2 separate regions of the Homo sapiens genome follow, and region 1 is linked to region 2. Evidence: fine-mapped expression QTL. A gene starts in region 2. The other region holds a variant in brackets. All regions are shown on one strand. Distances are between the middles of the regions.

Region 1 (15,251 bases), 29 kb after region 2:
GCAGCAGTGCTTACTACTTCCCTCCTTCTGTGGCTCGGGCACTTTAGTAATTTAGAAATGCTTCTTCTTCATCTAGAGAAGTAAAAATAATTATAATAGAAAATGGGTAATTTGCAGCTACAATGCCAGGCTGATAATCAAAACCTTGTAAATGGAAACATAAGCATATGTTTATCACTTCTTGAAATTAGAATGCAATTGAAAGTAGCTGTGGCCTCAAAGAGAGGGCATTATGGAAGGGAAGGCAGACTTACTTGTTAGTTGGAGACCTGCCTGCTAATGAGGCTTTTACGTTGCTGTTGTCTCAGGAGCAGTGAATAAAGGAAAGCATCCCTGAGAGCTGCTCAGCTTGTTCAGGGGACCCTCAGGTAATCACTTATAGACTGATCACTCTCTTGCATAAAACCACGCAGAGGCTTACCAGCCACCACCGTCAGGATCAAGTTTGACCTTGTCAACATAGAGCATAAGGCCCTTGGCAGGCTGGCGCAGGCCTCCCATGCACCTTAGCCACTCTGTTGACCCTGCTACTGCCTCAGCATGCTCCATGGCCTCTCACATTCCAAGGCCTTTGCAAATGCTGTTTTCTCTTCCCAACTCATTTACCTGCCTAACTCGTAGTCATCCTTCAAAACTCAAAACATCTGTTACTTCTTCTTAGCATCCCCCTCTTAACCTGACCGAGCCTAGGGCTCTCCTCTGCCCACCTAGGCTCCCTGTGTTTCCATTTGTGCCAGCTCTTACCACCCTGGGCTGTGACCGTCCTTAGCCTTTCTACCTCCCACCAGCACAGGCAGGTGAGCATCTAAGCATGACTGTGGTGTGTCTTTGTCTCCCTTGTTCTGGCATACTGCCTGACTCATAGCTGCTGTTTGATGTTTGCTGAATGAAGGGATTATTAATGGCAGTCAAGGACTTTGGAACCATTTTAAAGTTTGTCTTTGAAAAGCACAGTTATGACATAGAGTCATTGATAACATAAATCCTATAATGCATTCCACAGCCAGTTGGGCTGCTTGGGTCCTCTGTGTCTGTGTTCATTTTTGTGATAGGCTTAGGTTGGATCATGAGTTAGTCCTGCCCATTTTTCACATCAAAGGCAAAATTGGCCCTAGAAACATAATAGTTTTGCCTCTGTACCATAATCAGGACAGCAATGTGTTTGCTGCTTTGCATCTTATTTTTGTGATATTGTTATAAGTACTGAAGGGCACACAAATGCTTTCGGCATCTGAAGGAGGTCAGTTTCATTAATGAATCAGTTGTGAGCTCAGAAAGCAAGTTTTCTTACTTTTGCCCTTGCTTTGTAACCCAGCGTCTGGCTCTCTCTCTCCCTGGTGGGCCCACAGGCCTGCTAGTGAATGGGCATGTCTGCCAGTGGCTTAGTTTTTCATCACCATCCTTATTCTGAGTCAGTTCCAGGCTCATGGATCAGTAGGGACACACTGTTTACATTTAAATCAGACCCCTGGTTTGAAGTTGACTTTATTTTTATCTGCAGATTAATTGCCAAATGCTTAGCTTTTCAGCTAATCAGGTACCTCTCATGCTCCTATCCACAGGGAAGTAAAGGGGAGCTAAGTGCGAATCCTGCCTGAAGGATCCCATTCATAAGACATAGTGAGCATGATGGTTTTGGGAGCTGTCCCAGTGTAAGACTGTGTGTGCTCTGTACTCTACTAGCTCCTGGACACTGAGGGACAAGAGGGGGGAGCAGAAGCGCTGGTCAGAGGGCACTATTTGCCCTTGACCAGATCTCATAGCTTGTCTCCAACCTGCTGATCTACGGAATGATGAGGCTAAACTAGAAAATGTCTCTGGTCCCTTCTACCTTGCTCTGAAATGCTGCCACGCCCCAGGTTCGAGTTACAACGTGTTGCTGACTGTGACTCAAGCAGTGAGTGAATGGAAGTAGGGGAAGAAAGTCTAGGCAGCTACGGTTTGCTTGAGGAGTTTCTGGGGCTGGAATAGGGTGGGGCTGTGGGGAAGCTCATTTATCCATTCAGCCAGAATTTCGTAAACCTGGCTTATGCCCCAGCTGGGACAGAGCTAGGCACAGAGACCTTGAAGGCAACAAACTGAGCCCTCTCGGGCATCCTCCTGACCCCAACACGTGGCTACTACACTTAGCAGTCAGCTGTTTGTTTCCAAAAGTGTCAGTGCTGGCTGTATTTGCTAATATAGTCAAATAACTTTATTAAATATTATATAAACTAATGAGCTATGAGTATAAAAGGAAAGAGTAGGTTTTGCTGATAAATGATCTGTTTGATTGCTCAGAAAATAATGGCTTCAACTCACATAAGCATTTTATAACTCCTGATTTCCATTATTTTTAAATAGAACAGTTTTTTTTTAAATTATGGGGGTTTTAACAATATCACCTTTTGCATTATTCCATGGCACATTGAGAGGTGTAAGATATTTTGCATTTGAATTAAGAAACACACACACACCTTAGTCCCATGTTATTTACAGGATGACCTCTTAGGAGCCATTTAATCCAAACATAAGTAATTTTATAAAATGGAGTAGGCACAGAAAATGATAGAATAACACCAATACAGTGACATTTATGAAGCAATGACTCCATAAACTGCAACTTATGGCACCACCAACACCCCTGCCCCCGCTGCCAATCTATCCTTTCCTTTAACATTTTAACTCCATTATTTCAATAAAATGAGAGTAAAATACTTATCATGAAACCCATTTTGTACTTTGAATCTTTTTAATCCTCTCTTAGGTGAATGTGCCTCTCACTGGTGAGGCGCATACCTGCTTTTCTCTGGTCACTTTTGCTTCTGGACTTCTAGAAGTACAGCCAAAACTGTTTGCTCTCACAGAGGCAGAGCTGCATTTGGTTCTGTGGTGATTCCCAGCTTCTCTCGAGGAAGAGAAGATGCGTGGTTTATTGGATCTCAATACCCTCTCCCAGGGGAAGAGGCTGCAGGACATCTGTTTGCTTTTGCTTTCAAAATTAAAGTGGATGTAATTTGGTTTTGAAAATTTTGCAATTTCACTTAAAAACATTGCTGTTGGGAACCAGGGAGTCAATGTAGTAAAGTCCTCACAAGGGCCTCTCTTGGGCCCACTGAGAAGTGCTGTTGCCCCCCATAGGCTGCTCTTGCTCATACCCAGGTCCTGAGGGGCCATGCTACACAGCTCAGCAGAGACACCTGGAACACCTGGCAGGGTGGGGTCGAATCTCATCTCAGCTCACTCCTCCTTGCTGTGCAATCTTGGGCAAACAAGTTCAGTTCTCTAAGTCCCAGTTTCCTCATCTGCAAAGGTGGAGTAATAGCATCTAATTGAAATATGTGTGCCCCTTAAATGGTTGGAAATATTAGTCAGTGCAAATGCTTATTCTTTATCTTTCCTTGGATTGTTCACCCGGAGCCATTTAACCTCACTTCTGAGTCCCCTTACACACAGTGATGTTGATCATCTGGGTACCCACAAAATGTAAGGGGACATTACAGCCCCGGGCTGCTGCAGGGCAGTGAAGCTGTGAATCTTCTGGAATGCCATGCCAGGCCTGGGCACTGGCTGGCTGAGGGTAGGACTCAGGGCACGATGGTCTTCCCCAGGCATGGCTTCCTCCCAGCATCACCTCCAGCCTAGGCTTTGGGGGCCTCTAGACAAGGGCCTAGAATTTTCTCTGGCAGGCCTGAAGCTGGGTGGAACAGTGAGGGCTGGACACAGATCAAGGAGTGGGCTCCAGATATGCTGCTCAGTGAGGAAGGGAGGACTTAGGTCCCCAGGCTGTCAGTTTCCCTCCTCCAGGGCAGGGAGCATGGAGCATTCAGAGGAACACTGACTTTGGAATAGCAGAGAAGGCAGGAAATGGTTGGAGCAGGAGCACTGAGTTATGGCTGGGAGAAGCTTTAATAGGCCATTAAGGGGGTGGGATAGGGTAGGGGAAGTAATTAAGGAGGCCATTTTGCACCCTTGCCCGGAGCCTGGGACCCTGAGACCAGGAGTCTAGGGATTCGCTCTGCCCTCAGACCTGCCAGCTCTGCACACAGCCTGAGCTGTACCACAGATGTGGGCCACCTTAATTCCAGCAGCTACCTTTGAGATACACCCTTTGGTTTTCAGGATTCTGGAATCTCATCATGTCTGATGGAGAGGCAGTTCAAAGTCATTGGCAGTGGGTCAGCAGTATTGTCTGCAGATAAAGCATAGCTTCTCTTCTCTTAGTATCACAGATGTTAGGCAGCCTTCCCCTCTCAGAATAACCTCTAGCTTTTGAATCATTTGGCATGAATATATATGGAATCATTGGTGGAGTTTTTAGTCTGTTATTTTTCCATTCAGATTAGTTAGAAATGTACCTTCTTGAGCTAAGGCCTAATACAGAAACTACTTTGCAAAAAAAAATGGAGACTTGGGAAACTTAAAATGAAAATCATATAATGGAAGCCATTATTTAGTCTCTAATCCATGAGTTTTTATGCTGTGCGGGTATTTATATATTATACTTTCTACCAAAGTTCTTCACACAAACAGGCCTGAGTGGGTCTCTTACTTCTTACCAATTCTTACAAAAATTATGGTTAACATGTCATGCCAACTCCATGCTCTTCTTATTTTCCAACACATTTTCCTTTTACAATAGAAATGTTCATATTGGGTTAAATTAGAAAGTTATTTTAAATAATCACTTCTGAGGTATCAAAGTAAGGAAGATTTTATATTTTTTATTTTATAAATGATGTGGTGGTTTTCTTTGATTACTTCTTGGATCCTACTGTTCAGAGAAAATCAGATATTCCTTTTTGTAAGAGAAGTTATGAATCTTCCCTGAAGAGTTTTAGAAAGATAAATACTTCTCCCTTGGCATGATGTCAGCAACTTCTGCCTCGAGGAAGGGAAATGGAGTAGAGAATTGCTCCAGGTCCTTTTCAGCTTTAGATTTCTCTGAATTTATCGCTTTCACAGAAGGGATCTCCTGCATCTTCCACATTTGTCCCAGAGTGTCAATCTCATTAGGCCGAGGGATGAGGGTTATATGTCAGGATGCATTCCTCAGGTAAAACCTAAAAGTCTCCACAGCCAAAGAGCTTGGTTTATAAAGCACTGTCACAGTGTGATAGAAATCTCAGCCCTGAGTCCAGAGCTCTGACTCTAGCTCTGTTATTAACTTACTGTATAACCTTGGATAAGCAACATCACCTCTCCAGTACTCAACTACAAGTGAGTTTCTTCAATTATAACACAGGGGGTTTAGACCACATGTTAACATTCTGCAAATGGGAGCACAAAACCAACAAAGTTAAATATTTTGGTTAAGCATAAGCCTTCCAGATAGAGCATTCCCTCTGCCTAAGGAAAAATCCAACTCCCAATCTATGTATTTTTGTAACAGTATCTTTAAAATGCAGAAGATGAAAATCTTTCCTGAAATTTGTAATAAGGAGTCATAAAATGTCAACACTTTTTATGATTTGTGGCCAATCTTGGAGAAATATGTCTTGAAAAAATAAACATTTCATATTATATGGAGAAGAGAGAGGGATTGGTTCCTTTCATTCAGCAAAAAGCAGTAATTGCAGTAAGAGCCATCGCTTAAGAAGTATTTGTAGAGACCTGTCACCTGTAAAGCACTGCCCCTATGCAGTCTGTGTTTGAGATGGAAGTTACCCCATGCCCTTGCTTTTGTTTATCCAAAAGGCAAGTGGGCTCCTGGTTTCTTGTTGTCCAGAAATCACATCTTTGCTTTGGGGTCTTGAGACACACTCCCATTCATCTCTTCATGGCCCCTAAATTGAATGTTGTGAAGTCAATGCATGTTTCTCCTAGCTGTATTAATGCCTTTGGGGTGTGCAGTTTGTCAGCCTGACTGCATTAATCCAAAACAGTGTTTCAAATTGGCAAGTAAGGTGGGACCCTTTTGATCAAAGAGTTCTCCTTTTGTATGTGATGAAGCGTGGTTTGGGTGTGTTTTGGGGTGCACTCAGAGGAGTGAGGCTAGGGGTGTCCTTTTCAAAGGTATAGTGCCCCCCTCCCTGGTGTGCAACTCACAAACACTAGGAGGGCTGCGTACAATAGCTAACCGTGCAGGAACTGACTGCTCACTGGGGAGAAGCTGCCCTTCCAGGAGGTAAAACAACCTTTGGAAGCATCATCATATAGAATTTTTCAGAAGGAAAGTGTTCAAAAGACAGATTCCCTTGGCTTTTGTGTGAAACTGAGTCAATGAATGGTGACTTTGCCCCACTCTTGTAGAAGAGACAAAAGACGCACTTGCCTCAGACTTTGGCTACTTACTGTGTGTCTTTTTTTTCTTTTTTTAAATAAAAACATGGAAGACCACCAGGGAGTTTGGTGTAAAAGCCAGTTTTTTTGTTTGTTTGTTTGTTTGTTTGTTTTCTTTGCTTGCCATCCTGCAACATTAGCTGGGTTACAGGAAACTTCCAGAAACCACAGGCAATCTTTAAAGACCATCTCCTGCATAGCCCTTCACTGAGCACACAATTACTGAGGGTCGCCACTGTTTGCCAGACATCATTCAAAACAAGGTTCTCATAGTGTATCTTTATTGCATTTTCATCTTTTTTGATTCCTAAAATTACAAAAAAGAATACATGCTTAGGGAAAAAGTGCATTAGTATAAAGTAATACTAATAAAGCCCAAGTCTGTCCACTCTTCTTACCACCCCCTCAACAACCCTACTCCTTCCTTTGAAAGTAATGACTTCTTATTTGATGTGTACCCATCCAACAAATTCATAAACATATCTAGGTGTACATATATATAGTTTCTGTATATTATAACACAGATTGCTTTGTTTAAACCATGTGAGAAAATACTATAATATTGTCTGCAACTTACATTTTTTTACCAGTATTTACTCAATAATCTCCCACATCGGTATATGTAGAAGTACGTCACTCTTTTTAATAGCTGCATAGTATTACATGGAATGTAACCATTCCCTTGTTGGTAGACAGTGGGGTCTCTAATTTTTCACTATTGCAGATAAACCTTCAGAGGACAGTCTGATGACATATGTTTGCAGGTATCTGGCCATGTTTATTAATAATTAAACTATTTGTTTGAAGATATGTTTCTCCAACACATGTACATGCCTACACATCCCTATCGAAACTATGAGGTTAATTTATAGAAAGTTTCTTAAATCCTTGGTTCCCCTCTAATTACCTGCCCCTTCATACTTAATCTGTTCACATGTTTGCTTTAAGAACTAAGCATTTTTTTCTCATGCCTTCAGCCTCCTGCTTCAGGAGGGGACGCTGCCCAGAACTGGGAGTTGGCTGCCTGCTTTTCTTAACCTACATATATCAGTCCATTTTCACACTGCTATAAAGAATACCTGAGACTGGGTAATTTATAAAGAAAAGGGGTTTAATTGACTCACAGCTCCACATGGCTGAGGAGGCCTCAGG[A/G]AACTTACAATCATGGCAGAAGGCAAAGGGGAAGCAAGGCACGTCTTACATGGCAGCAGGTGAGAGAGAACACAGAGGAAACAGCCACTTTTAAATGATCAGATCTTGTGAGAACTCTCCCACTATCACAAGGACAACGTAGGGAAAACCCCCCCAGGATCCACTCACCTCCCACCAGATCCCTCCCTCAACATGTGGTGATTACAATTCAAGATAAGATGTGGGTGGGGACCACAGCCAAACCATATCACTACACTTGCATTCAACCCTCTCCTATTCCACTTGCTGCAGGCAGGAAGTTGAATTCAGCCAAATATCATCAAAGAACCATAGAATCTGGGGGATAGCTTTTGTACAAACTGAAACTCTTCCTTCCAACGTGTCTGTGAGTGTATTAGTTTTCTGTGGCTGCTGTAACAAATTACCATAAACTTGGTAGTTTAAAACAAAGGAAATTTATTTTCTCACAATTTTGGAGGCCAAAAGTTCGAAATCAGTATCCCTGAGCCAAAACCAAGGCATCAGCAGGGCTGCATTCAGTTCAGAGGCTCAAGGGAGAAATTTGTTCCTTGCTGAGTCCAGGTTCTGGTGGCTGCCAGCATTCCTTGTCTTGTCACTGCACCCCTCCAAACTTCAAGGCCAGCATCTTCAAATTTCCCTCTTCCATCTTCAAATGGCCTCTCTGTGTGTCAAAACTCCCCTTACCTCCCTTTTATAAGGATACATGTGATTGCATTTAGCACTCCCTCTTCTCAAGATTCTTAATCACATCTGCAATGACCCTTTTTCCAAGTAAAGTAACATTTACAGGTTCTAGGGATTAGGACCTGACATCTTTGGGGGACATTATTCAACCTAGTTTGATGGAGTTGTTGACCTCCTTTCCAATATATTTTACTGCTGGGGCACATTTGATATTTCCTTTGAACCATTTGGGAGAATGTATTTTTATTCATAAGGGAGGCAGAAATAGATGTTATTTTGCTCTGTACATTGAAAACTTAGCTAGAAAGGTGAAGTGCCAGAGTCAAGGTCAGACAGAAAATCTCTGGCTTACAAGCTTCTTAAATTGGAGACTGTGTGGCATGAATTGCATGCACAACTGTAATGAGTGAAATTACAAACGTGCCCATCTTCATTTTTCAATTTGGAAATATTTAGCTGTATGAAAGTTTATATGCCCTAGCTAGAAGGAAATTGAGAAGCTATCTATTATACCTTCTTTCCTGCAGATCAAACCAAACCCATGCCATACATTTTTTAAATCTTCCCAGATGTGCATACAGGTGTTCCACTCCTGTTCAAAATAAAGAATTGTGCTAGGCAATATTAAGGGCATAAGGCCAGGAGAAGTGCACACTGCTTAGGCATTTAGCAGCATTCAAATACAAGGATAAGGTTCGTGAGCGTACATTTAACTGACATTATGTCTCCTGCTTCAAACTCTTCAGTCCTCCCTGCAAAAAGCCTATTACGGTTTTGGACTTGGCCCTCCCCTTGCCATGTGAATGCTAATGTCTAATACCTCCATTTCCCAATTTCATAGCAGGCCTGCATGCTCATAAATTAAACTGCATCGCTCAGCATTATCATGTGCATTCTAGGATTTAGTCCAAAATGGCCCAAACTGCTGCCTATTTCAGCAGAACTCCCTTTGGCCATTGCCTGTTAATATATTATAGAGACATTAGGACAGTGATTTGAGAGTGCAGACCAGGCAGGTAGAGAACATACTTCCCTGCAGAGAGGTCTGTGGGCAAATGGGAGTGGCTCAGGGGAATGATTGTGGGGAGATGTTGGTTGCCTCATTTCAGACAGAGGATGGGGCCTACGTGGACTGCCCCACCTGAAACAGGGGGAATGCATCTGCCACAGACTGTCTTATAAAAAACTATTGAATGTGAATGGCTAAAGTTTAAAAGATAACAAATCAATTGAAAGAAGTAAAATAAATCCCAGACCATGGCTAAGTTTTGTCACTTTCTAAGCCAGTGATGGTGGTTTAAAAACATACCAAAATGTCCACCACAGAACCAGATTGTAAAGGAAACATAGTGGTGCTTGGCTTCTCAACATAACACTAAACACTGATACTTTTAAATCACAACCAAATCTGCACATGGTTTTTTAAAACTCAAGTAGTATAGAAGAGCATTCAATGAAAAGTTGCAGCTCTGTCCCTACTGCCCCCACCCCACCTACATCCCAAAGGCAAGTTGCTTTAGCCTTTTGAGTCTTTATTTTGGAAGTTAAAAGCAACTTTAAATTGTATGCCACTGAGTCCCATTATGAAAAAATAAAGATTTAACTCATTTATATTCTCTGCACCCTACCCTTCCTCTTTCCTCTCACTTTTGATGATTCTATTACAATGTTTATTCTTTAATTGGATACATTTTTACTTGAATAATACATTTTTATCGCTTGAGTCACAAATGGCCAGTTTGCCTATCCAATATCTGTTTCTCCCTTCTTCCTTATTAAAACAAACCCAATTTTGTTGAGAGCAACAATGTGCCATCAAAAAAAACTATACTCCTCAGTTTTCCTTGTGATAGTTTGCCTTGTTACAGTGTTCTGGCCAGTGAGATGTAAGCAGAAATTGTTGGGTAGGAAAACTCCTTATAAAGGGGACTGACTCAGCAGGTAGGTTCCCTTTACCCTTCTCCTCTCTTTCTTCTTCTTACCTGGAGCACAGGTATGATGGCTGGAGCTGCAACAGCGGTCATGCGACCATGAGATAATCTTGAGGGTAGCTGGAAGTCATGTTCTAAGAATAACAGAGAAAAAAATCTAGAGGGATCCTGGCAAATTGGTGACATCAGAGCTGCTGCCCTAACCCTAAACTGCCTATCTTCCTCATCTTCATTTTATGAGAGACAAGTTTAGGCCCTGTTTTGTCTAAGGCATTATTTTCCCCCACATTTGTTATTCACAACAAATCTGTGCCTCTCATTCATCAACTTTAATCAGTATCTAGACTCTCCACGAGGTGAGAGGAAACTATTGGTGCTTTTGCTGTCCTTCCCATCATTCTCCAACTACTGCTTCTGGTAGCTGTATTTTTCTTTTTTTCTTTTTTGAGATGGAGTCTCACTCTGTCACCCAGGCTGGAGTGCAGTGGCATGATCTCAGCTCACTGCAAACTCTGCCTCCCAGGTTCAAGCGATTCTCCTGCCTCAGCCTCCTGAGTAGCTGGGATTACAGGCGTGTGCCACCACACCCAGCTAATTTTAGTATTTTTAGTAGAGATGAGGTCTCACCATTTTGTTCAGGCTAGTCTCGAACTCCTGACCTCATGATCCATCCACCTCGGCCTCCCAAAGTACTGGGATTACAGGTGTGAGCCACCACTCCCGGCCGCGAGCTGTATTCTTACATTGCCAATGTTGATAACATTACCTTTCTATTCTGTGATTACAAGCCTTCTGTGTCTTTTCACTAGATTGACTCTAAAAGTTGAACACCATTAAATAGGATTTACATTATTATGACCACGTATGTGTTCACTCCTGGGTCAAGTGTCCCTGGATCACTCAAAGAGAAATTCCTAATATGGGAGTCAAATTAACTTTTTTCTCATATTCCATCAAGGAGTTAAAATTATGTCCCATTTTAATTTACATTATTTTTGGACCATGTTATTTATGGTCCTTTTTTCTTAGAGCTCCACATTTTCACACTCTGCCCTCAGCTCTTACTCCTCAGCCTATACAACTATCATTCTAGGTTCACCTTTCTCCAGGGTTAAATTACCTCTACTTAGGTTGTTTTTCTTCCTTGTTTTGCTGGAACACATCCTCAAAGAACTTCTTAGAGTGACTGAGTGGTAAACTTTGGGTCCTTTCATATTTTAAAGTGTATTTATTCTATTCCTGTACTTAAATGATGGTCTAGATTTAAAGTTGTTTTCTCTCAGTATGCTGGTATTGTTCATTGTATTTTTGCATGCAGTGTTGCAAATAAGAGGTCAGATGCATGCCAGTCTTATTTGCATTCTTTTGTGAATTTTTTCCTATTCCCTAGAAATCTCAGAGGTCTTTTCCTTATTGTTAGTGTTCTTTTATTTCAGGCCAAATGTGTTATCAATTAGGTTGATGTTGGTTGCAGCTGTCACACCAACTAAAATTGACTTAATGATAAAAAGGGTATTTGTTGGCTTACATAATTGAAATGCCCTAGATGGGATGAGATGGGATTGATGTTAGGAATATAGTTCTATCAGATCTCTGGTACTATTTATGTGTGATTCTCTTGGTATAGGCAACTGGGTAAATCTCAAGACAATCCTGATAGAACAGAAAACAAGGAATCAAGGCAGAGGTTGACAAGCAATGCAATGGCATTGAAGCCTGGCATCAGAGAAGGCTTAACAAGGAGACCTTTAATTTTAAATGTTTAATTGTGATAAAATACACATAATATAAAATTTACCATCTTCACCATTTTTAAGTGTGTAATAAATGCATTGATGTTGTTGTGCAAGCAATCTTCAGAACTTACCTCGCAAAACTAAAAGTCTATACCTATTAAACAATAAGTGTTCCTTCCCCCTCTCCTCCCACCCCCGGCACCGCCATTCTACTTTATCTTATTAATTTAACTGTTGTAGGTACCTCATGTAAGTGGAATTATTCAATAGTTGTTCTTTTGTGACTGGCTTATTTTTACTTAGCATGATGTCCTTAAGATTCATCTATATGGTAGCATATGTCAGAATTGCCTTCCTTGTAAGGCTAAATAATATTTTATTATATACATGCAACGTATATTTTGTTTTTCCATTCATTTTGTTGATCCATTCTTCCGTTAATGGACACTTGGTTTCCTTCCACCTTCTGGCTACTGTGAATAATGCTGCTGTGAATATGGGTGTACAAATATCTGTTTGTATCACTGTTTTTAATTCTTTTGAGTATATACTTAGAAGTGGAATTCCTGGATCATATGGCAATTCTATTTTAATCTTTTAAGGAACCTCCATACTGTTTTCTATAGCAGCTGCAGCATTTTACATTCCCACCAACAATGCACGGGGGTTCCCATTTCTCCACATTCTTGCAACACTTGGTATTTTCTATTTTTCAGTTAACAGTCATTCTAACAGGACGTGGTTTCTCATTGTGGTTTTGAATTTATTTCCCTAGTTATTAGGGATGTTGAGAATCTTTTCATGTGCTTCTTGGCCATTCATATGTTTTCTTTAAAGAAATGTCTACTCAAGTCCTTTGCCCACTTTTTAATTGGGTTGTTTGTTTTTGTTGTTGAGTAAAGAAGACCTTTTATGGACAGCCTTATATAGGCTGAGTGTTGGGGGGCAAAATTTAATAGACAGAAATGGATGGAAAGGACATTCTAGGCAGAGGGCCCAGCAGGATCAAAGGCATGGAGGTGTCAGAGTGCAGGGTACATTCAGGTTTTTTAAGTCACCAGGCTGTGTCAGACCATAAATTACAGGAGGGAAGCAGCCAGCACTAATGCAGGAAAAGCAGGGCTTCCTCACCCTCTGAAGAGGGGGAGTCAGGACACCACAATGAAGGAAGCCCCACTGTGGAGCCATCAAGAATGTGGAGACCATTCTACCAGATGCAGGGCTGCCCTCATCAATGTCCCCATGGTGCCCATGGGACACTGGATGCAGTCCAGAGGGGTCTGTTAAGAGGTTCTGGAGGCAGCTTACCCTGAGGTTAAGTTCTCAGGTCACAGTGCCAACCAAAAATAATGTTCATTCAAAAGTGTTTCTGAAAAGTTCCCAGGGCAGCGCCACAGTGGGGCTCAACATATCATCCTTTCCTAGGCCCCATACACCAAGGCCTCCTCAGGCACAGGTGCAGTCTCTCTTCAACTGCAACCCACATGAAGTTGCTTCCTTGATTTTAGAGACCACATTATGCAGAAGATACTTATCTTTGCACACTAGGATCACATTTGGCCCATGAAAGTGTACACACCATTAGAGAAAGGCAAGAACTGAGGCCTCTTGAGGTATATCTCTTTGGATGCTTTGGGCCACACGCCACTGAACACCTGATCAGCAGGCGCTTTAGCAATAAAGATATTTTAGCAGTTTATATAATAATAAGTCTGGAGAAAAGTAATACTGCACAAGGTTAATATAGTTCTCTAGGCCTTCCCTTTGTAGTCCTAGGAGGGCTGTAGCAGCCCCAAGCATCATATCCCTACACCACAGTGTCCAGGGGAGGGAGGGAAAGAAGAGACAGAAAAGGGGCTTTCTCATCAGTGCTCTTTCATCATCTGGGAGAATATTTCCTGATCTCCAGGTACTTTCTTTTGCATCTCATTGGCCAGAACTAGATCACATGCCCATGCCTAACCAATCACTAGCAAAGAGCTTGAGACTTCCATGGTAGGTGTGGTGCTATGGTTCTCATGCCTCTTATCCCCTGAAGCAAAATAAAATTGGTGTTTGTTAGCCAGAAGAAAAGGGAATTGCTGTGCTGCAAGAAGGACCAGCAGATTCTCCTGGGCTATATCACACTTGCTCTGGAACATCTGCTCATGGAAGACAGCGTAAATCATTTCATGTCAGCCTACATTTTATTTTATATGTAAATTATTATTTTATTTATTGAGTCCAGCACATACAGGTGAATTCTCATGAGTTGGATGTCTGTGGGCTGAAGCTTCACTGCCTTAATTTTGGGGTTGTTACCTTCATATGTCCTCCTTGGGCTTTATCCCAACCTCTGAGAATGGAGTGTTCTTTAGTTCCTCTGGCCTAACTATATTCTAGCTCTGCCTGTTGACCTTGAGGCCCAGGGATATGACTGGTCCCCTGGGGCCAGGCCCTTGCTTTCCTATCCTCTGGACAGCCTCTCTGTTCCAACTATAGAAAATGCTGTGCTTGTGGCATGCACACTCGTAGATCAACATGTATCACAATGGCCTAGAAAAAGAGCCATCAGCTAAGACGTAGCATAGCAGATCAATACGTTAGTTCTTTGGAAATCACAGAAGCAAATTAAGCTTTTGCTGATTTTTAAATTCACACACAGTAAGGAAAATCAACAAGTCCTCATTTTGTGGGAGGGAGCCTGGTATGGGGTTAGCTGGAGGTTTGTGTATAACTTGCTGGCAAATGTGTCAAGCTTCTTGACACTTGTTAACCTATGCATAGGCTTTGGTGGGAACATGGACAGGACATGTTCTGCCAGTTGTAGTTGTGGATTCTGAAGCAATAAGTGCAGGAAGAAACAAGACAGTTTGTCAGCTTAAGAATCATAGAGACTACAGTTGTTACTTATGAACTGCCTACCGTTCTGGCCTAATTTCTAGCCAACACAATAGCGATTATGCATACCATTAAATATATGTTGGATGAACTCAGTTAAAATTTTTAATTAATCACAGCCTCAAATCTGACTCAGGCCTGCTCTGACTTCATAGATCCCTGCCTAGATTTGCAGTTATCTGCTTATCACCATGGCAGTCTGCTCATAGCTCAGTAAAGAAGAGAAGCTGGGCTGCTTGGCTTATAATTTCTAGGAGGAAGTTATATTACACGAAATTGGAGAGAATGGCTCTGGACTTGGTTATGTTGTACCCAGTGAAAGTATCAGGTGAACAGCTCTTCTTGGGCATCATGTCTCTTGCCTGCACCTCCCAACTGTGATTCATAGAGCATCCACTGGCCTGTTCAGCCTTCATGGAGAGCCTGGCCAAGTTTCCACCCTTCCCAGATATTTCAGGATCCTATTGTCATCCTATTACCTTGAGGAAGTTGGTAGTAATGGCAGCTTGTTTTCTTTTTGAGTGAATGAATGAACAAACAAGCTAAAACAAAGTGGCCTTTTTTATTAGGATTTTTAGATTACATT
Region 2 (15,251 bases):
ATTTGAATCAGTAGACTGAGTAAAGAAATCACCCTCGTGAATGTGGGTGAGTATCCTCTAATCTACTGAGGGCTGGAACAGACCAAAAATCCAGAGGAAGGGCAAATTATCTCTCTTCTTGAGCTGGGACATCCATCTTCTCCTGCCCTCAGACATCAGAGTTTCTGATTCTTGGACCTTTAGAAACTTACACTAGCATCTCTCCTGCCTGCCCCAGTTTTCAGGCCTTCAGCTTCAAACCTGAAGTTACACCATCAGCTGCCCTGGTTTTCAGGTCTTTGGACTCAGACTGAATTACACCATGGGCTTTCCTGGCTCTCCAGCTTGCAGATGGCAGATGTGGGATTTCTTAGCCTCCATAATTATGTGAGCTAATTCCCTTAATAAATGTCCTCGTCTATCTATCTATCTATCTATCATCTATCTATCTATCCATCCTATTGGTTCTGTTTCCCTGAAGAACCCAGACTAATATAACCTCAATTCAACCATAAGCTCCTTGAAGGCAGGAACCATGTCTTTGTAAGCAGAACAGGAATGGTGCTGCATAGGAGATTGAGAGACCAGAATCCTAGGACTAATTTGTATTATCAGACTGTGCTAGACTGAAAGTTACTGATAACTACAGTGGTGTGGCCAGATAGGTTTTTTAATTTTCTTATAAAATAAGAAGGCTGGAAGTAGGCAGTTCAGAGCTGGTACAGCAGCTCCACGGTGTATTTAACATGTCAGACTCCTATTCATTCATTCAGCCATCTTTAGTAGGTGGCTTTGGAGTTCACGCTTGGAGTTCACTTCTAAGATTCATAATGGCTCCTTGGCCTCTGGGCTTATACCCACATTCTAAGCCAAAAGGAAAAAGGAGGAGAGGGACAGAAAGCTTGCAAAGCAAAATCTTCCTACTAATCCCAGGTGGACTCCTGTTTGCTTCTTGTGGCCATCTCTAGCTGCACAGGAGTCTACCGCTCTAAACTGAATTGGGGCTTCATTGTACTCTAGCTTCTCTGCATCCCTGCCTTCCTCCTAACAGCATTCTTTGGGTTTCCGTTTGGGAAATTGCCCCTCTCCACTATGAGAGTCTTAGTAGGAGAGTAAATTCAGATGCTTTCCTTTCAACTTCTGCAGTTGAAGGAGTTTGCCAACACCTTTCCCAGGACAAATAGGAGAGTGTATACTAATGTTGGCCAATCTGAGGGCCTCTCCCAAGACTTTGGCTAGTGTGCAAGTGAAACAAGGGCATAGAAAGTGTCTAGAGTTTAATCATCTATCTCTGCAGCAGCTTCCTGACCAGACCATTTCTACTAAGAGATTATTCCCAGGGTTTTCACTTTCTAGCTTTTCAGAGCTACTTTCTCCCTATCCGTTTCTAAGCCTGGATCTCCAAACTTTCTGTAAGTTCTGAAGGCCCAATCCTGCCAATAAACTCCCATCTACTGGGTCACAGAGACTGTTTCAATTGCTTCTAACAAAAAAGTCCTGACTAATACTCCAAACCCACCACTGGTCAGGCGTGATCTCGAGAAAATCCTCTAACCTCTCTGGGTACTCTCTACTGATCACAAAAGGATGGGTTATTCCTAAAGGCTTTTCCATTATGACTTTGACCACCTCCAGAAGGCCCTCTTTGTACCAAGTAGGCCCAAATGGACATCAAAGCCTGGATTAGGGTTTTAGCAATAGGGGTAAAATATAAAAGCTCCATTAGGAACGGCAGCTGACAGCACTGGGATGCTGCTACTGGAGCACTCCTTGGGCAATTAACCCAGGTAAGCACCAACCAAAACCCACTCCACTGCTTTTGGCACCAGAGTGCAATGTTTTCATTAGCAAACAGGCACTATTTAGTGTCTTCTTGCCATAATTATAAAGGTCCACTTATAATTCTGTGCTTTCAACTGTTCTTGATTATAAGACTTCTTAATTGTGCCACCATAAAACATGTTTTCAGGGGGAATCTGTTTTCCACTTTAAATTCTCTCCTGCAGCAATGTATTTGCCTTACAAAACTTCAGAATAAAGGGTAGAGGCTTCTGTAAATTCATAGTCTGTACCTTCAAGGAAAAATTACTTTGTTAGAATAGCAAAGTGGCCCCAGTTTGGCCTTATTTTCTAGCAAAAACTCATTGCTTAGCTGCATTTAATAATCCATGGAACATTTCTATTAACTTCAGTGTGTGAATTGTGTGACTGCAGAATGGGTAAAAAAAAAGTGAGAATCAGGAATACAAAATATGCAGAAAATGAAAATAAGTGAGATGTTAAATATTTGATCAAGGCCTTTATTTTCAGGTAACCAGTTGCCATCTTGGGGTCTCAAATGCCAACAGAAGCCACAGAATACTATTCTGAATTATTAAAGTGACTAGGAGAACCTTGTTTCTTTTTACTACTTTTAAATGAGTATGTAGCCTCTCAAGCTAACCTTTGCTTAAACATTTAACATAGACATTGGGTGAAATATAAAAAAGCAAAAGTTCTCAGTCTAATACTCAACCTGTAATTATAAATCAGATTACATAATACAGCTCAGCCATTTCATTTTATTTTTCTGTGTTCTAACAATTTTTTTCAGTTTGAGAGGAACCTAACCAAGATTAGTTGAAAGTCTGCATTCTAGAATATTTTTATCTGTATGTGTACTGAATATATTTTTCATTTGCTCAATTCAATGCATTCATTCATTCAACAGATATTTATTGAATATCAGGTGCTAGGCACTGTTGTGGGTGTGAGGACATATCAGGGAACAAAATGTATAAAGATTCAGCCACTCTTGGGCCCTACACTTCTGCGAGGGAGACAGATAATGAGCAAAATATCCTCCAATGATAGGTAGTAAGTACTACAAAAGGGGTTGTATGGGAGTATTTTTGTTTGTTAAGTGGAGCTGTCTACTAGAAAGCTAATGAATTGGGAAAGTTATCCTAAGAGTGGGCGGTGTGTTATTTAGGTCAATGAGGACAGCAGCACCATGGTTCTAGGTGCAAATAGGCCCAGTGTGTCCAAGGAACAGCAACAGAGTCAAGGAAACCAGAGATGAGAATGGCTGACAGCTGGAGCACTTGTCAGGGCAGATCCTTGAGGGCCTTGCACACCAGGGGGAGGACTTGAGATTTTACCCTAATTGTGGTGGAAGCCACTGGAAACTTTTGAGCAGAGGAGTGTTATAAACTGATTCACGTTTTAAAAGGATAATTTTAGCTCAATAGTAAGTATAGCCATGAAGCCAAATTGACAAAGTGAAGGTTTTCTAGTGAGGACCTGCTTTGATGCTTGTATAAGAAAGATCTGGCATGAGCACTATCTGTTCACTGTTTGTAAGAAAACACCTGGCCGGGCACGGTGGCTCATGCCTGTAATCCCAGCACTTTAGGAGGCCAAGGCGGGTGGATCACCTGAGGTCAGGACCAGCCTGGCCAACATGGTGAAACCTTGTCTCTTCTAAAAATACAAACATTAGCTGGGCGTGGTGGCGAGCGCTTGTAATCCCAGCTACTTGGGAAGCTGAGGCAGGAAAATCACTTGAACCTGGGAGGCGGAGGTTGCACGCCACTGCCCTCCAGCCTGGGCTACAAAAGTGAAATTTCATCTCAAAGAAAAGAAAAGAAAATGCCCATCTGCTGAAGTAGTTGCAGTGACTGAAAAGTTTGCCCTCTTTGGTCATTTGAAAAGTCCACCAGTCTCCCTTTTACATTTTACTTTTACCCACTCAAAGCTTGCTTTTCCTCAGCGACAGGTCAGAAGTCAAGGTTAGAATAGGTTCATCCAAATACAGAGGCTGCCCCAGTCTACGGCCTCATCACAATCCATCCACAAGCAAGCTTTCCAGAATGGCCTCAGGTCCATCCCAGGACTGTGACTCTCAGCCATCTGCACATTGCTTACTGCCCAAAGAGTTCCTCCTGAAACTTCATCAGCACACTGTTAAGTGATAGAAGGAAACTGCAGAATAGTGTTATACTGTAGCCAGATCTCATTTTAGTAATGACATTTTTATGCCTAGAAATAATGTTTTAAATGTTCAAAAATATGAGCTAAGTGGTCAGTTCCAGCTTTTTTCCCTGTAGAGACCTGTCTCCTGCAGCCTTGGGTGGGATGATTCCAAGGCATGCTCTTCACACAGTTTTCTAGGGTTTTCCCCTAGGATTAAGCCCTAAACATCTATTATAGTAGCTGGCTTAATCTTTTATTGAGCTCCCCTTTTCTTCCCTGTATTGCTTCTTCATTACTCTGCTGGTGTTCCATGTACCTCTCAAATAACTACTTGCATTAATTCTTACCTCAGGATCTGGTTCTGAGGCACTCAAGCTGAGACATCCTCTATGTAAAATCTTCCTCCTTCCTGAGGTGGCATTAGGTGGCCACCTTCCTTGAGCCATAATGGCAGATAGGATCCAGGAGAAATGAAACTTACCAATAAAGGAGAGATCTGAAAATATTATTCCCATTATACCCATAATCCAGTAGTCTTTTTGTGAGCTTAAGCAAATACAAGACTTGCATTTAGGTATTCCTCCTTCTAAAAAATTAGGAGGTAGTTGCCTCTCCAAAATGGATTTCTCAGCCATTGCGTCTTCACCGCTTAGGTTAGGTAAAGCTTGGCTATTATATGAGGTTCTTACCTTCCAGCACAAGGGGACGCTACTTTTTTAAAAAAATATTTTTATTTCCATAGGTTATTAGGGAACTGGTGGTATTTGGTTACATGAGTAAGTTCCTTAGAGGAGATTTGTAAGATTTTGGTATACCCATCACCCGAGCAGTATACACTGAACCCAATTTGTAGTCTTTTATCTCTCACTCCCTTCCCATTCTTCCCCTCTGAGTCCCCAAAGTCCACTGTGTCATTCTTATGTCTTTGCATCCTCATAGCATAGCTCCCACTTATGAGAATATACCATGTTTGGTTTTCCATTCCCGAGTTACTTCACTTAGAATAACACTCTCCAATCTCATCCAGTTGCTGTGAATGCCATTAATTCATTCCTTTTTTCTTGCCTAGGAAACCAGGCTTCCTCCTAGACCAAGCTTTAGTCTTCACTACCTCAGGCAGAGAAAGCTTCCCTTGCATGAGGAAGTCATTGCCCAGCCTCTTCTCTGCTCTCTGTGTGCAGCTTCTCCCTCCCTGGCCTAGGGCCCTGACCCAGAATGACTCTTCAGCCCACGATTTTAATCGAAGGCCTCTAATCAACCTGTGGTACTACATGCTACACAAGATTCTCAGAAATCCCTAAGCTTTCTCATGAGCCTCCCACCCTGCTGGGAAATAAGCTGACTTATCAATTAAAGAATATCCAAAGATGTTAAGCCACTTAATCCTCCCCAAAACTCAGTGCGGTAGGGGTTGTTACCTCCCATTATACGAAAGGAAAGTGAGGCTTGGGAAGTAAAGAGACTTGTCCAAGATCACCTTCTGGAGCCACATTTTACACCACAGGTAAGAGAAAAGGGATCCGAGAGGGCACGGACACTGTGTCTTCAGACTGAGTGGGGAAGTACCATTTACCTGGGTACTTATTGGGTGCAAGTTGCATGCCCCCGGTGCTAATACACAAGGGACAAATTTATGGGCCTCCTAAAACTGTGGACAGTGCACCCGTCCAGCCAACTTCATGGGTGCACCGTGAGGCTCTGGTGATGTGGACAGGCTTATAAAACACTCTCCATACTAAGATGAGGTTGTGTTCCTGTGTCTAGGAAACGCTGGAAATTAAGTGTACAGCAATCAAAAAACCTTGACATCATCCTTGATGTCTCTCTTTTTCGCACACTCCAATTCACTCCATTAGGAAACTGTATTGGCAGAATCTAGTGAATCTTGTCCTTCAAGGCCTCTCTCTGCAAGGCTCCCATGAGCCCTGGGGGCTTATGGAGAGTTCTGGGTGGGCAGAGGAAGCCAGACTGCGTTAGGGAAGCAAATTTGGGACCTAAATTTCCTAAGAAGGTTTTAGGGGATAGGGACCCCAATCTCTAAGACCCCAGGATTCTGTTAAGATTTATTTTCTCATTCCAAATAAATGTTCACTGGCAAGCCCTAATTCTGTCTTCTCTTTCTTAAGCAGCCCTCCCTTCCTTCTCCCCACACAACTGTGTATGCTTCAGGCCCCAGAAATCCTTCCCTGCTTTGAGGTCTGGCGTTTACCAGGGCAGGGCTTGAGAATAGAGGTGTAAATTTGTCAGAAGGAAACAGGGGCCGCGCAGTAAGAGAGTAGATCCTCATATAACATGGCAGAAAGTCAATGGATAAATCAAGAAATCGCTATGTAAGTTTCTTTTTTTATTTTTTTATTTTATTTATTTATTTTTTTTTTGCGACAAGCGGGTGACCACTAGAAGAAATTAACGGAGGAATTGTTAAAAAGAGCTGTGATGGGAGGGAGAAGTGGCCTGTTGCTTTCATTATAAGCAAATCTAGATAATTTTATTTTCTAATAAGTAAGTGGGCGTTACTTTCATGTATTTTTTTAAAAGAAAATTAAATAAAAATACAAAACAAACAGAATACAAAACAGGAGAATAAAAAAGCAAACACGCACGCAACACAAAAGAGCCTTGGCGGTTGGGAGCCAGCGGGCGGGGGCGGGGGCAGGGGAGAGGGCGGGGCTTAGGACCCTGGGCGGGGCCAGGGCCGGGTCTCCTTAGGGCCCGCCCCAGCGAAGGGGCGGGGCGCAGATCTGTTTCCCTCAGACTCCATCTGCCCGGGGCCGCTAAGGGAGCGCAAGGTCAAGTTCGCCTTGGCCCCGCCTCCAGCTCAGGTACTAGGGGATCTAGACCTGAGGCTGCCCGGGCCGGAGGCAGCCTTGAGTCCCGAGACCAAACGTCGTTTCCCTCTCGGACCTCGGGCGCCGGGCCGCGCGCTGACCGACAGCCCCTGCTAGGCCCAGCAGGTCCCCTAGTCCCCCGCAGTCCCCCGAGACTCGCCGAGCGCCGTTGCTGAGCCCTGCAAATAGCAGGTAAGCGCAGCGTGGGCCCCTCGTCAGCCCACTAGGACCTGGATCGCGGCTGAATGCCCGGGCCCACGTGACTCCTGGCCCCTAACTGAGTCCTGGGAGTCCCCGCTGGGGCGACAGGTGGCGGCGGAGTGCGGAGCCATCCGGGGTGGCGCGAACCGGGGGGACAGCTCCGCGCTGCCTCTGCGCGCCGGCGGTTCTCGCTGCAGCGTGTCAACCTAACCCCCAGCTCCCCTTTGGCTATGACCAGAGTCCCGGAGACGTGGGTTCGGATCCCACCTTTAGCACTCGTGCACTCAAAGGTTAAAAATATAAGCACAGTGTCTAACAAATACTTAACGTGTTCCACTCAGTGTCCGCTGCTGGGCTAAGTGCTGGGGTTACAGTAGCAGGCCAAAAAATGTGGTGCCCTCCCCCGTGCAGCTCACAGTCCAGTGGGGGGAGACCGACAGCAAATGGATATCTATGCAAACAAGTGTGAACGTTAAAACTGTGGTCAGAGCTATGAAGATTGAAATTCTAGGGTGCTGGAGAGATTTTATCAGGGCCCCCAGCTACAAAGGCTGCTGGAACTAAAACTTTAGAGAATTCCCGGGCGGGGAACAACAGAGCAAACTCATTTTGTTGGGAGAGAATGTGGCTTGAGGAAAGGAGGGTTGGTGGGGCTGGCCTGCAGAGAGCTGGGGGGAAAGCAAGTTCCTTAACCTTAACGTTCTCCTCTGTAAAATGGGATTGTTCTACCCATTGAGAATGGAAATGGTGAATGTAAATGACTTAGCACTGCGTGATGGGTGCTGGATGTTACTCTGCACTAAACATCCAAGGCTTGATGTTGTTCTGGACTAAACACAGTGTGCCTGCCTCTCAGCAAAGTCACTTCCCCTCTCCTTGAGTCCTGTTTCTTCCTCTATCAAATAAGTGGTTCTGAGTAGAATCTCTCAAACAGCCTGTTCTCTAAAATGATGACTGGTTTAGTTGTTCATTCTTGAAACATTTAACTGGCGCCCACTTTACCCTGGCTCTGAGGATTCAGAGAGAAATCAGACAGGGGCCCTGCCCTCCTGGAGCCCATGTCCGGTGGGCCAGGTGAAATAAAGTGACAGTTCCACCCTGGCACAACCCAGAGAAAGGGTTCTTACCCACTGGCCTTGCAGGGGAAAGCTTCTCTGTTTTTCTCAGAAAGCCACCCAGGAGCCCCTGAAGGTATGGTTCACACAGCTCCACTGAGCATCAGTTACTTCTTGAATTTCATTGGTGGTTCTCAGCTTTTGGTGTCACCTCTTAAAACTGGACAGAAGACTTCCCAGAAGCAGCAACTATGCTGGGACCTTGCTAAGGACGTGTCAGACCTTGAGACCCCATGGATTTGGGAGAGCATTTTAGGTTTCAGGAAACATCTGTCAGCTGCTCACTGTATTTTATTGGCTCAAATGATCCCAATTTCTTATTTGGCTCTGTTCACAACATTGTTGTAGACAAAGAAAGTGCTCCATGAAAACCAACTGAGAGGCCCAGAGAGTAGGGGAACCCAGATGAGGCAGGAGTCTGGCACCATTTGTGGGGAGTGGTAAAAAAGAACAGGTATGATGTTAACAGAGGGTGTTGGAGGGAAGAGGAGAGAGAGCAGCCATTGTGCAGCCTCTCTTTTCCCCTCTCAGACCACTGCAGGATGCCAGCCCATGAGAAGGGAAGCTCCAGGCTTGGTGGTCACAGACCTGGCACTTCTCAGCTCTGTGACTGACCCTGGGCAGCTCACTCACCTTGTGAGTCGTGAGGATTGCTCAGGCTTAACAGGTGCTTAGCATATCGTTGGCCCTGAAGAAATATTAACTCCCACCCTCTCCTTCTCCTGAATGAACTAAAATATACATAGTTGTAGTGTCTACCTCAGAAGGTTATTATGGGGATTTAATGAGGACCTAAAATACATAGAGCAGTACCTGACATGTGGGAGGATACTACTACTATAACTATTGATATCGTTCCTTAGTCTGGACAAAAATTGATGAAACAAGACAGGGCAGAGGCGGGAGAGGGATAGGAGTGGAGGCAGTATGAGGAATTGTGCAGGGTGATTAGTCAGGGGGTTAGATTATCTGTTGCAGTGGTTTTGCCATAAAGCAAGAGCCTGGCAGCAGAGAGGGGTGTTCTGCATGATAAAGGGCCTCCTGGGCAGCTGCACTGTCAGAAAGCCCCAGAAAGCCCCAGTGTCTTTGTAGACTCAGGCCAAAGAAAGCGTAGCAAAAGTTGGAGAAAACTAGGGTTGAAAAGGGTCTAAAATGGTCTTTTTGATGATGTGTCTCTAACTGATGGCTGAGTGGGGGTTCCCTGCAGGGGGCTGCCACTGCACCTTGCAGACCCTTGCCATCCCTTTGAGCATGGTAACTGCCTGAGACCGTTCTGGCTCTTTGACCTGGGAGCTATGGAGTCTAATTTTGCAAACTTCTCACCCAGCAGAGTACCAGGCCAAAAAGGCATGAATCAGTAATGAACAAATAAATGAACATAAACCCAAGAGGCAGATTTTTCATGGTATATGTGCACGTGTGTGTGTGTGTGTGTGTGTGTGTGTATGTTTAAAAGGAATACGAAGGTAAGGAAAGATGACTAATGTATTTAAGCATTTGCTGAGGGCCAAATATTTTCATGTATGTCGCAGCTTAGTGGTGAACACCATAGTCTTGTAGTCAGATAAAATTGCTCGTGTGACTTTCCCATGTATCACCAAAGTGCTCTAAACCTGTTTTTGCATCTGTAAAATGAGAATCACTGTAGCTAATTCATAGGGCTGTTAGGAGCATTAAGCAAGATAAGCATATGAAGCACTGACCTCAGTATACAACATGCAGTATGGTAAGTGCCCGGTCAATAATGGCTGCCTTATTATTATATTTATTAATCTTCCCAATGATCTCCACAGTGGTAAGGAAACTGAAGGCCCTAGGCACAGAAGGGTGGCATGGATTCTGAACTGAGTCCCATCTGGAAGCAAAGGCACTCTGCAGACACTAACCAGACAGCTTGTGTGAAATGAAATCAACTTTATGTGCATTTCATTCGTTACTTAAAGCACTTGACTAAGTGAAATTTTAAAAAGAAAAAAACCTGCAAAATTATAATTTGTGTGCCTTTCAAGTTCAGGTATTTTATCATCTCGATAAATCTTCCATACATCTATGTTAAACCACTTTGAGCTGTCAAAGCTCTTAAATAAAGTGGCTCGTCCTCACCAGTGTCTGTCTTTGCTCGTTTATCATGGTTCCCCAGTAAAGATGGACAGATCCCATTTTGCGGGGCAGGCCTCAGGATGGCAGCTCCTGCCCCATTGGTTTAGCTGTGCAGTTCTGCATGATGGTATTTAACAAACCACAGTGGACTCATGATTCCTTCATCATTGTGTCTCCCACATACACATAGACCCATGTGCCACTCTAGGAATTAGGAATAGAAAGGCAATCTATTGCTAGAGAGAATCTGAGAAATCAGCTCCAGGGAAATCTAAGATTCTCTGTAATAGGTTTTGGGTGGAAGTGCCTGGGATGAGGGTGACCATGCATCTGGAAGTCAGCACTGTCTGCTCTTTCCACCCAGAAGTGCTGTGTCTGGGCTGCCTTCCTGCCCAGTGAAATCCTGGTCTTCATCCCTGTGCCTCTCTGCTGTCCCTGCCTCTGGCCAGAGCTGCCCCTAAATCCAGAATCCCTGGGGCAGCGGCAGAGGCACACTCTGTTGCAGGGAAGCCTTCCTGAATCCCTCCTCAGCCTTCCCATAGTACCAGCGGGTGCCTGTCGGCATGCCCTTCTCTGGCCACGCTGAATTACCTCCTCTGCTTGGCTGTGAGCACTTCCACAGCTTTGGACCAAGTGTTCCCTGTACTTAGCACCATGCCTGGCACGTTGTTTCTCTCTCTCTCTCTCTATTCCTTCCTCCCTTTCTTTCTTCTACACATACTTCAGGCAGTGTCCTGGGGATTCAAACAGTGAGTCAAAATGACATAGTCCTGACCCTCATGGAGTCTGCACACATCATGAGACAGATTTAACAATAGAATTAAGCACATACACACATAGCAACACATTTTAAACTGGCTTAACTCTCCTGAAGGAGGAGGCTGGTGTCAGGGCCGCATGTGGAAGGGAGAAAGATAGAGAAATATAGTCAGTATCACTATAGACAGAGGGGCCAAAAGTGTTGGAGGGAGGCTTATGTTCCTTTTTTCATATACACCCTTGAAGACCGCTGGATGATATTTTTCTATAAATCCTGGTAAGCAGTGGTGTATGCTGCCAAGGTCATCCTATTGAGAATGTACACTTTTAAAAACAACTGTGCTTCAGCTTCCAAATGGGAGAATAATGCTGTGATCCAATTCACTTACCCCTTTATAGTTTCCAGAGCTCCTCCTCGGATGTTGTCTGGTTGGGTGCTCCAGTTCTCAGCGTCATACATCTCATCTTGGGTAGCAGCAGCAAACAGGGATCCAGCTCACCTGAGGGTAAATCTAGTGGCGTGGGCACTGGAGCCTTTTCCCTTCTGAGTGACAGAGTCCACCTGAGAGCCTATTTGTTTCCTCCTTCTCTGATACTCCTGGGCACACCAGGCTGAGTCTCCAGCATAGATTTTATCATGTTGTGGCTAGTGGTCTGCTGTCTGAGAGGAAAGAAGGGCACTGCTGACTGCTGTTGTCCGGAAAGCTGGGCCCACCAATCTGTGTGCAGCTGTGGCAGGGTGAGCTGGCAGTGATCCTACCCATGCAGAGCCATGCCATGCCAGCACAGTCCTTCGTGAGGAACCAGCAGTTCTCCAGAGGGGCACCATGCCTGCCTTCGAAACCCATTCATTTCCACTGAGAACAGGGAGAAAGTCACACTAAAGACCTGTTCAAAATAAGATGTGATCCAAACAGCCTCAGGAAACATTCTCTGTCCATACTTGAATATTATTAGAGAGTTACTTTGGCCAGAGCTGTTGACAAAATACATCTCCAATCCCTACCAGTCTCAGATGTAGACCTTATCACCAGAGATGAGCTGCCGTCTTCTCTGCAGCAAAGGAAGGATGCATCACTGCACAGAGATTGAAAAGGCCCCCATGCTACTCTTAGTCGGGTGAGTTTGCCTGCCTTGCACAGACTGGTGGGGAAGGGCTATATTCTCAAGGTACAGCTATAATAGGATTGTAATTGTGTGGCTCTTAGCCATGGAGAAAAGAAGTGGTTCTGGAAATCTCCCTTTCATAAAGGCTGACACGCTGACAGTATTTATGCCTCTTGAAAGTACATGTTAAGTGGTGGATATTTATGAAAAGGGTTTTGAGGAGTAAATGTGTCCATCAGTCAACCTGGAACTTTTTAGAGCTCCTAAGATGGTTTTAAATTAGAGCCAATCTTCTTCCTGCCTTCCCCCTTCCATCAGTACGCCCCCCTTTCTTTGCTTTCTCTTATAAAAATGAAGTGTCAAGGCAGGACAGAGCCCGGGGATGAGGTTGGAACTGCCTTACAGAAGCAGAGTTAGCATATTAAAGGCAGGTGTGTAGGGGTTAGAGCCTTGATTCTGGTCCTTCCCCCTTGTCACAGTGTTCTGGAAAGAGGAGAGTACGGAGCAAGGCTGACAAGCATGGCTCAGCCTAATTGCATCCTAACCACTGCCATCAGCAGCCCTGATATCAGCCAGGCTGCTCGCTGAAAGGTTTACAACCATAAAGGAAAAGAATGATGAAAACATGTGATGCAAACCAACCCGAATTTGGGCTCAATAAGTGGCAGGTGGAAGTGAATGAGTGTCAGTGTCAATGAGGGAATCACACCAGGTCAGGTCAAGAGAAACCTTTAGAAGGCTGGAAGTTTCTCTGTGAGCCAGTGATCATTAGAACAGAATGCCTGTTACATGAATTAGTGTGTAGGAGTCTAACTTGGAATTATTACTCACTTTCAAATCTTCATTTTAAAGATCAGTAATAGGTTTATTGCACAAACCTTATACTTAGTAACAAAGACTGCTTTGCTTTTAATTTCCCCATCTGGCCTTCTTCTATGTAACTTATATGGTGCCGTTGATCATTCTTGTCTTAATGTTTGTGTGTGTGTGTGTGTGAGAGAGAGAGAGAAAGGATACCACTGTCTGTTACTCATGTTGTGTTTTGTAAGTAATCAAAGGACCGTCGATGATAAAAGTATAGGAGCTGCCTGTTTCAGGTGTCACTGAAATGCTGCTACCTTTTGGCTTCTTCTGAAATTCTGCTTTAAGAAAATAATCTGAAAATTAGAAAGAGCCACTGTATAAAAATGCTCTCTGCACCATTATTTGCCATGGTGAAAACTTGGAAGTGATCTGAATATACAGTATAGGAGGAGAACAAATTACAGAACGACAGGCTGATGGAGTATTATGTAGTACTTAGAAATATGAAGATTAGCCACATGGGAAACCTTAACATGCTCTGGGAACAGAATGCGGTTACATTACAGACATATTTAGGAAAACAGTCTTCAAGGGAACCCTCTAAGGGGACAAGAGTTACATATGAAAAAGGGAATTATGGATAACCTTTTTCATATATCAAGCTTTCTATATTATTTTATTATTCCTATAACTATTTTAAAATCTTAAAATCAGCCAAATTAAACAATGATCTTTCTTCAGTTTGTAATTTTAGGCCACTACCTTTGTGGCCTCATCCTGAATTAAATCATCCAATCAAAAAGAATGTTAAAGCCAGGTTTGGCTCCCTGTTTCCATGTTTCCAGTCCAGAGATACACTCTGGGTTCCTGGCTGAATGGCCTGCAGATGTGTTCACCCTGTCCCTGTAGACTTGAATTCTCAGGGTTTTTAAGTTAAAGAAGGCCATTGCCTCTCCTGGTCCCCAGTACTGTGGGAGGAAGGAGGAATTTGGAATTGCAGCCTTCAGAGCCCTTATTGGTGACATTTCAGCAAACTCTCCCCACAACCCAACACACACAGTTACTAATTGCCTAGGGTAGCCCTGTATCATTCTGGCATCTTGTCTTGCAGGCATTGTATTCTAGTACCTCAGGAACTGGATATTATGTGTGTACTGCCAACTCTCACTGTGATGGCGTTATATCCGTGTATTCTTTGCTACCTAATGCTGGCCAAAGCCTAGTGCATTAAACTCATTCAATTGGCTAAACATTAGGAAATCATGTCACAAGACAAGGACTTGAGTCTGAGTAGTTTATTTGAAAGTGGACCCCAGGAAGCACTAGCAAAAGGTAGGGAAATTAGCCGGGGAAGTGTACCATCAAGCAGATGTCCAGCAGGGGCATCTGGGCTTTAATCCTGATGGGGATCTCCAGAGCCAGCGCAGAACCATCTCAGAGTTATCCCGTCATGGGGCTGGGGGCTGGGTATACACATACCATTTCTGTCAGTCATTGCTGAGACAAAGAGATAGAGATGCTGTCAGTGGAAGTCAAGCTGGCTTGCTCTAAGACGATGAGGCCTGGGGCTCAGGGCATGGCACTGACAGTGTCTGCTGTACTGTTCTTCCCTTTAACACCATGAACATTATCAGCGTACTAAACTGAAGATAACCAAGTCCACAATTCCCTGCTAAATCAGACCCAGTTACACTACATTGAAGACTGCATTAAGTATAACCAACCCCAAAAGTTTGAGAAAAAAATCATGGATGGAAAACTTTAAATAAGAAAAACATTACCATATTTCTTCCTAGTAAATTGGAATAGACTACCAAAATTTGATTTTAGTGGCAGAATGCTAGTTTTCTGCAACTGTACAGTTTAAGACCCAACACTTTAAAGGAAGGCTTGAGTGTGTAAGGTTTATCTTTATTATGGCAATGTTTTTTCCTCTCTTGTAGCTTGATGATTCCTGTTATTTTTCTGGTAGATTAAGATGATATTAAAAGAAAACTTCATTAGGAGAAAATATTTAACTTTATTTGTATTAATCCATAATTATATCTCCAGTGCCATGTTTTAATATTAATATTGGATTTACTTGCTGTACTCACTAATACAAGAGGATGGCAGAAAATTTCTGTAGTTATGGCTTTAGGTGCTATGATAAATATTTTGTAGTCATTGCCTTTATATAGAAACACTTCATCTCCAATTAAAGATTTAGTAGCTCTTCATCAAAGTATCTATTCACAAACGAGGCATACTCTATGGTTGTGCTGACATTTCAACTTAATTCACTCTATAGTTTTGTGGATCCCAAATCTTTTTTTTTTTTTTTTTTTTTTTTCTGAGACAGGGTCTCACTCTGTTGCCCAGGCTGGAATGCAGTGGCATGATCTTGGCACTCACTTCAACCTCC

What was found.
Region 1: its variant is fine-mapped to the expression of NMNAT3 in sun-exposed skin (GTEx, PIP above 0.99). The same link has a PIP of 0.9 or more in unexposed skin.

Annotation. Positions count from the first base shown.
Region 1 is chr3:139,640,446-139,655,696 of GRCh38, reverse strand. All of the region lies in intron 1 of NMNAT3 (nicotinamide nucleotide adenylyltransferase 3), which reads left to right. Among named protein-coding and RNA genes, the nearest start is that of NMNAT3, 30 kb to the left of the region's middle. The variant A/G (reference allele first, on the strand shown) is at 7,414.
Region 2 is chr3:139,669,407-139,684,657 of GRCh38, reverse strand. NMNAT3 (nicotinamide nucleotide adenylyltransferase 3) reads left to right here and starts at 6,686. Exons shown (of 7, transcript NM_001401600.1): 1 at 6,686-6,953. RefSeq lists a silencer at 6,583-6,632.